Homo sapiens: one gene and its partner. Each later gene encodes a partner of the first gene's protein in a complex. Each region holds a gene or a part of one and is shown on either strand. Other genes may lie near its edges.

Region 1 (3,916 bases):
CAGGCTGGGAGGAGACCCCAAGCACATTCTTCCTCTCACTGTCATACTGCAGAAATTAAAGACACATCTTCAGCCTGGGCACCCGCCAAGCGTTTTAAGTCGAAGAGTGGCAGGGGAGGCCTTGAGCCTCAGCTCCATGCCACGTGTAAAGGATGCTTGGAAACTGTCTGCCTCGGCCCCTGGGAGGAAGGCCTGGAACTGGACATTGGGGTGGTGGCTGTCACACGCCAGGCACACAAAACTCCAAAGCCAGGGATCCCCAAATATCCTTCAGAACCCCAGGCCCATGATGTAGCAACCCCCAATTCACACCTTGGAGGTTTCAACTCTTCTTTAAGATGGGCGTGGGAAAGCCTGGATGGGAAACATATGGGGAGGGGCGGGGAGCTGCAGGCAGGAGCCCTTCTTACTACGAAAACCCAAGAAGCAAGGAAGTGGACAGGTCACTAACCCTCATACTACCAAGCCCTGCGGCACCCTGCCCTAGACCACCACTCTAAATGTCTGTTCCCTCCAAAAACAGGACCCCTGTCGCCTATTAGGGAGGGGTTCTCTTGGAACTGACCCACAGTAGGGGGCAGGACTTTGGTGGGTTCAAGAACTGCCATCTCAGCACCTCAGCCCCCTAGTCCTGCCCTGCAGTCGCTGGCACTAGGCGGGGGCAGACCCTGGGCCACAAGTTGCTGCCACATGGTCGGGATAATTGATGAAGGTCCATCCCTCCATTGCTGTCTCCAGCCCTGCCTCTCTGGAAACTCTATATTTTCCCTTTAATTATAGCCCCTGCAGTCTCCCTCTGCTGCCCCACCCGCACCGCTCATCCTGGCTGCCCACGGCCAGCCGGCCAGCCGACGTGGCTCCCTCCCCTTCTGTTCCTTTTTTTTCCCCTTTGCCTTCGTTGCACAAAACCAGCTGGGGGAGGGCGTGGAGAGGGGCGGGGGGAGGCAATGGAATCTTGGATGGTTTGGGGGAGGCGGGACTCCCCGCTTCCACGTTTGCAGCTCTGGAGCACCCGGGGTGGGGAGCTGCACAGGAGGGAGAGAAATGAACAGGGCACTGCAAGGAGACCCCCAGGCCTTCTCTCAGCCCTACAGAGTTTCTCAGGACGAGGTAGATTGGGGTTGAGGCAGAGCCTTGTTGGGGGAATGGGACATGGAGGAAGAAAGGACGTGGAGTTCTAGAGCCATCTTCCTTAGATATAGCCTGCTGTCCTTCGGGTCCCCAGACCCTTTCAGAGTGTACAGATGATTCTCTCTGGTTCCTAAGGCATAGAGCAATGACCGGGATTTTCAAGAAAGAGATGAGGCAGTGGGAAGTAGCCCCTAAAACAAAGTCAATCATCCTCTGCAGCCCATCCCACACCCCCAAAGGAAAGTTTCACCCAGACACCCAAAATATCCCATACATCCCCAACACTGAGTCCAGGTACAACTGGAGAAGGGGCTTTATGCAGCTCCCAGAAAGACACCCCTTTAGCTAAGTGCCCTCCCTCCACCCAGGTTCTCTCTGGTTTGACTGTGCTGGGAAGGAGGGTCTCTAAGCAGCCCCTGGCCACAGCCATGGCAAACAAAACTCTTCTCTAAGTCACCAATGATCACAGGCCTCCCACTAAAAATACTTCCCAACTCTGGGGTGGAAGAGTTTGGGGGATGAATTTTTAGGGGATTGCAAGCCCCAATCCCCACCTCTGTGTCCCTAGAATCCCCCACCCCTACCTTGGCTGCTCCATCACCCAACCACCAAAGCTTTCTTCTGCAGAGGCCACCTAGTCATGTTTCTCACCCTGCACCTCAGCCTCCCCACTCCATCTCTCAATCATGCCTAGGGTTTGGAGGAAGGCATTTGATTCTGTTCTGGAGCACAGCAGAAGAATTGACATCCTCAAAATTAAAACTCCCTTGCCTGCACCCCTCCCTCAGATATCTGATTCTTAATGTCTAGAAAGGAATCTGTAAATTGTTCCCCAAATATTCCTAAGCTCCATCCCCTAGCCACACCAGAAGACACCCCCAAACAGGCACATCTTTTTAATTCCCAGCTTCCTCTGTTTTGGAGAGGTCCTCAGCATGCCTCTTTATGCCCCTCCCTTAGCTCTTGCCAGGATATCAGAGGGTGACTGGGGCACAGCCAGGAGGACCCCCTCCCCAACACCCCCAACCCTTCCACCTTTGGAAGTCTCCCCACCCAGCTCCCCAGTTCCCCAGTTCCACTTCTTCTAGATTGGAGGTCCCAGGAAGAGAGCAGAGGGGCACCCCTACCCACTGGTTAGCCCACGCCATTCTGAGGACCCAGCTGCACCCCTACCACAGCACCTCTGGCCCAGGCTGGGCTGGGGGGCTGGGGAGGCAGAGCTGCGAAGAGGGGAGATGTGGGGTGGACTCCCTTCCCTCCTCCTCCCCCTCTCCATTCCAACTCCCAAATTGGGGGCCGGGCCAGGCAGCTCTGATTGGCTGGGGCACGGGCGGCCGGCTCCCCCTCTCCGAGGGGCAGGGTTCCTCCCTGCTCTCCATCAGGACAGTATAAAAGGGGCCCGGGCCAGTCGTCGGAGCAGACGGGAGTTTCTCCTCGGGGTCGGAGCAGGAGGCACGCGGAGTGTGAGGCCACGCATGAGCGGACGCTAACCCCCTCCCCAGCCACAAAGAGTCTACATGTCTAGGGTCTAGACATGTTCAGCTTTGTGGACCTCCGGCTCCTGCTCCTCTTAGCGGCCACCGCCCTCCTGACGCACGGCCAAGAGGAAGGCCAAGTCGAGGGCCAAGACGAAGACAGTAAGTCCCAAACTTTTGGGAGTGCAAGGATACTCTATATCGCGCCTTGCGCTTGGTCCCGGGGGCCGCGGCTTAAAACGAGACGTGGATGATCCGGAGACTCGGGAATGGAAGGGAGATGATGAGGGCTCTTCCTCGGCGCCCTGAGACAGGAGGGAGCTCACCCTGGGGCGAGGTTGGGGTTGAACGCGCCCCGGGAGCGGGAGGTGAGGGTGGAGCGCGGCGTGAGTTGGTGCAAGAGAGAATCCCGAGCGCGCAACCGGGGAAGTGGGGATCTGGGTGCAGAGTGAGGAAAGCACGTCGAAGATGGGATGGGGGCGCCGAGCGGGGCATTTGAAGCCCAAGATGTAGAAGCAATCAGGAAGGCCGTGGGATGATTCATAAGGAAAGATTGCCCTCTCTGCGGGCTAGAGTGTTGCTGGGGCCGTGGGGGTGCTGGGCAGCCGCGGAGGGGGTGCGGAGCGTGGGCGGGTGGAGGATGAGAAACTTTGGCGCGGACTCGGCGGGGCGGGGTCCTTGCGCCCCCTGCTGACCGATGCTGAGCACTGCGTCTCCCGGTCCAACGCTTACTGGGGCAGGAGCCGGAGCGGGAAGACCCGGGTTATTGCTGGGTGCGGACCCCCACCTCTAGATCTGGAAAGTAAAGCCAGGGATGGGGCAGCCCAAGCCTCTTAAAGAGGTAGTCGGGCCGGTGAGGTCGGCCCCGCCCCGGCCCCATTGCTTAGCGTTGCCCGACACCTAGTGGCCGTCTGGGGAGCCGCTAGCGCGGTGGGAGTGGTTAGCTAACTTCTGGACTATTTGCGGACTTTTTGGTTCTTTGGCTAAAAGTGACCTGGAGGCATTGGCTGGCTTTGGGGGACTGGGGATGGCCCCGAGAGCGGGCTTTTAAGATGTCTAGGTGCTGGAGGTTAGGGTGTCTCCTAATTTTGAGGTACATTTCAAGTCTTGGGGGGGCCTCCCTTCCAATCAGCCGCTCCCATTCTCCTAGCCCCGCCCCCGCCACCCCACCTGCCCAGGGAATGGGGGCGGGATGAGGGCTGGACCTCCCTTCTCTCCTCCCTCGCCCTCCTCCTGTCTCTACCACGCAAGCCACTCCCCACGAGCCTGCCCTCCCGATGGGGCCCCTCCTATTCTCCCCCCGCCCTCCC
Region 2 (3,020 bases), on another chromosome or scaffold:
AGACAAGGTTTCACCATGTTGGCCAGGCTGGTCTCAAACTCCTGACCTCAGGTGATCCACCTGCCTCAGCCTCCCAAAGTGCTGGGATTAGAGGTGTGAGCCACTGCGCCTGGCCTGAATGTCAAATTTAATCCCAAAGTTTGTTTCCTCAATGTTAAATTGAAAAAGAAATGACCTTTACAGATCAGGAGTAAACAAACTGTTTAGCTGGGAGTTTATCAAGCCATGCCAAAAGTGTCAGCTGACCCAAAGTAAGACATGTTAGATGGGGGTTATCATACCATGGGGTTTCCCTAAGATAAAACTCCTCCATATTATACTATTCAAATACTTTTAATATCTTAGTCATTTTTATTTCCCTTGCAGGCAATCTCTTTGAACAGAGGTTTATTCAATGAAGGAAAGGTGGAGGGAAGAAGGGAAGAATTACAATGGTTAGAAAAGAGCAACTAAAGATTATTTCTATTATACTTCTGAACGGTAAACTAGCAATTTTAATAAATATTGGGGTCCACTTAAATCTATTAAAGCAGAAAGTGTAAAGCTATCTCCATTAGTGAAGAGATGAAGTGACAAAAACCAATCAGTTTTTGTAGCAACTGATTTAGAAAATCTTGTACTGAAATCAACAATTAGACTTGCACATCATAGATTTTCAAATGTTTGCTGAATTGAAAAAGAATATTCACAGGAATTATTTCCCCCGAAGGTGTCTTATATCAAATAGATGAACTTCAAGTTGTGGAATGTAAATCTTTTATTAAAACAGTTGTCTTTCCACAGTAGTAAAGCTTTGGCACATACAGTATAAAAAATAATCACCCACCATAATTATACCAAATTCCTCTTATCAACTGCATACTAAGTGTTTTCAATACAATTTTTTCCGTATAAAAATACTGGGAAAAATTGATAAATAACAGGTAAGAGAAAGATATTTCTAGGCAATTACTAGGATCATTTGGAAAAAGTGAGTACTGTGGATATTTAAAATATCACAGTAACAAGATCATGCTTGTTCCTACAGTATTGCGGGCCAGACACTTAAGTGAAAGCAGAAGTGTTTGGGTGACTTTCCTACTTAAAATTTTGGTCATATCATTTCAAAACATTTGCATCTTGGTTGGCTGCATATGCTTTCCTATTGATCCCAAACCAAATCTTAGAATCACTTCATTTAAAATACTGAGCGGTATTGAATACTTCGAAGCAGAACAGGCAATGTGCAGCCCTCATTTATGAGAAAACCCTCAGGAAACTCCCAGGGTGATGCTTGGAGAAGCTGTGAGTTGAGCTGAAGCTGGAGAACTTCCTCCAGAGCAAAGGGCTTAAGAAAGAAAGAAGAACTCTAAGCTGGGTCTGCTAACATCACTCCAGTTTAGATGGATCTTGGCAGAGAGACATGCTTGTTCCTCTGGATTGGAAAGATGATTTACTCTCGGGAATCTTCTCTGTCAGCCTGTACATCTAAAGGCATGAAGCACTCAATTGGGCAATTAACATTCTGTTAAAAAGGAAGAAGGAAAAAAAAATTAGTGGCAAATACTGTAAAGTGTACAGAAAAAAAAATGCGGGGAGGTGGGGACTCATGACAGCTGCTTATAGATAGGATAATATTTCTTCCTAGTTTCAAGAACCTAGCAGCATACTGGGCAATAGGAGATGTTCAAGAGTTACATAAATTATAACTTAAACTATATTATGGAATACAGTGTTTCACTTAAGTCATTTATGAGTTGTTTTTTTTTTTAATTAATTAAAACACTTGGTTCATTCTGAAGAAAGATACCTGTAGAAAGAGACTGTCTAGTATGAGGGAACACACTTGTGCTGCTAATGCACTTACAGTGTTTGTTCTCTGATGGTATCTCTGAGAATACTGGTTGTAGGACTGGCCAGTAGTGCCTTCGGGACTGGGTTCACCCCCAGGTCTGCGGCAGTTGTCACAGCGCCAGCCCTGAGAGAGTAGAGGCATGAAGTCAAATGGGGTTTATGATAACCTGAGGACATCGTAATTTAGTGTTTGAGTTAAAGAAAAATGTCACATCATATGCACTGGCAAAATATAAGCAGTTAATCACTAAGCAAGCTTTGATGATGATTTCATGCATTTATAACTCTTAATACATTTTGGCTTATTACCATATCTTATACCTACATCTGTCTCTCTATGTTGTTTCTTTCTCCTGAAATGTCTCTTCTCTTCCTATTCAAACCTTGCCCATCTGCTGAGGCTCATTCCAATCCCAACTTCCTCAACAAGTTCTCTGCACTAGATGATAGAAAAGGTTTTCAAAGAATCCTAGCGATTTTAAAAGGGACTTGAGATCACATGAAGAAACGTTCTCATTTTATAGGTAAGGAAACAGAGACCCAGAGGAGAGGAGTGACTTGCTTAGAGGGAGCAGGGAAGTCACACAGTGGACCACTGGTGGAGTTGGGCCTGCCGCCCAGGAGGTGGGGTGACCTGGCCATGTTCTTTCTAATGCACCACTTTGCCACTCTCTTCCTAAACTTCCCTAGGCAGTGACATGGTAGCCTGTCACCTGGCCGGAGATGGCATGGGAGATGGAAACGGGACCAAGCTGAGCCAGTGAGGCTCCTGCCTGAAGTTTTTACTGGAAATGGGAGGACACACATGTTCTCTTTCACTACTGTTCTTAAGCTGGCAGGGGGTAAAGCAAGCTCATGGAGGTCAGTCATCAATGGCACCATCAGCAGAGACCCCGCTGAAGCACGAAGCCAGTGCATGGGAAGGCACGCGGAGCAAGAGGGAGTCCGGGCGCCATTGCTGGAGCAGCCCCTGAAGCCGGTGGGTCCTGGGACTGTTCCATTGTGTGGGCCATTTTTGCTTGAGTTGGACTTTTTTCTTACAACTAAAATGCAGCCCTAAATAATACAGTCACTTTCTTTTTTATATTAGAATTTAAATATTTTAGACATATTTCTCTGTTTAAGCACATATGCCCCTTAATACCTAACACAATACCAGTGACTACCTCCTTACAGAATCACTGAAT

What was found.
Region 2: the proteins of COL1A1 (region 1) and FN1 are in contact, whole or in part, in a crystal structure (PDB 3GXE), measured with the Homo sapiens proteins. Residues at the interface, in NP_000079.2 of Homo sapiens: Leu261, Pro262, Gly263, Met264, Lys265, Gly266, His267, Arg268; in NP_997647.2 of Homo sapiens: Asp516, Gln517, Lys533, His535, Glu537, His539, Leu541, Gly549, Arg550, Gly551, Arg552, Trp553, Lys554, Cys555, Pro557, Gln560, Phe569.

Annotation. Positions count from the first base shown.
Region 1 is NC_000017.11:50,200,263-50,204,178, reverse strand, and holds the start of COL1A1 (collagen alpha-1(I) chain preproprotein), read left to right. Parts: upstream 1-2,547; 5' UTR 2,548-2,665; coding exon 2,666-2,768; intron 2,769-3,916. UniProt on the Homo sapiens protein: Type I collagen is a member of group I collagen (fibrillar forming collagen).
Region 2 is NC_000002.12:215,360,123-215,363,142, forward strand, and holds the end of FN1 (fibronectin isoform 1 precursor), read right to left. Parts: exon of another isoform or gene 2,531-3,020; coding exon of another isoform or gene 2,524-2,530; intron 1,958-2,523; coding exon 1,847-1,957; intron 1,505-1,846; coding exon 1,433-1,504; 3' UTR 743-1,432; downstream 1-742. Other genes in the region: bifunctional purine biosynthesis protein ATIC, read left to right, coding at 2,524-2,530. UniProt on the Homo sapiens protein: Fibronectins bind cell surfaces and various compounds including collagen, fibrin, heparin, DNA, and actin. Fibronectins are involved in cell adhesion, cell motility, opsonization, wound healing, and maintenance of cell shape.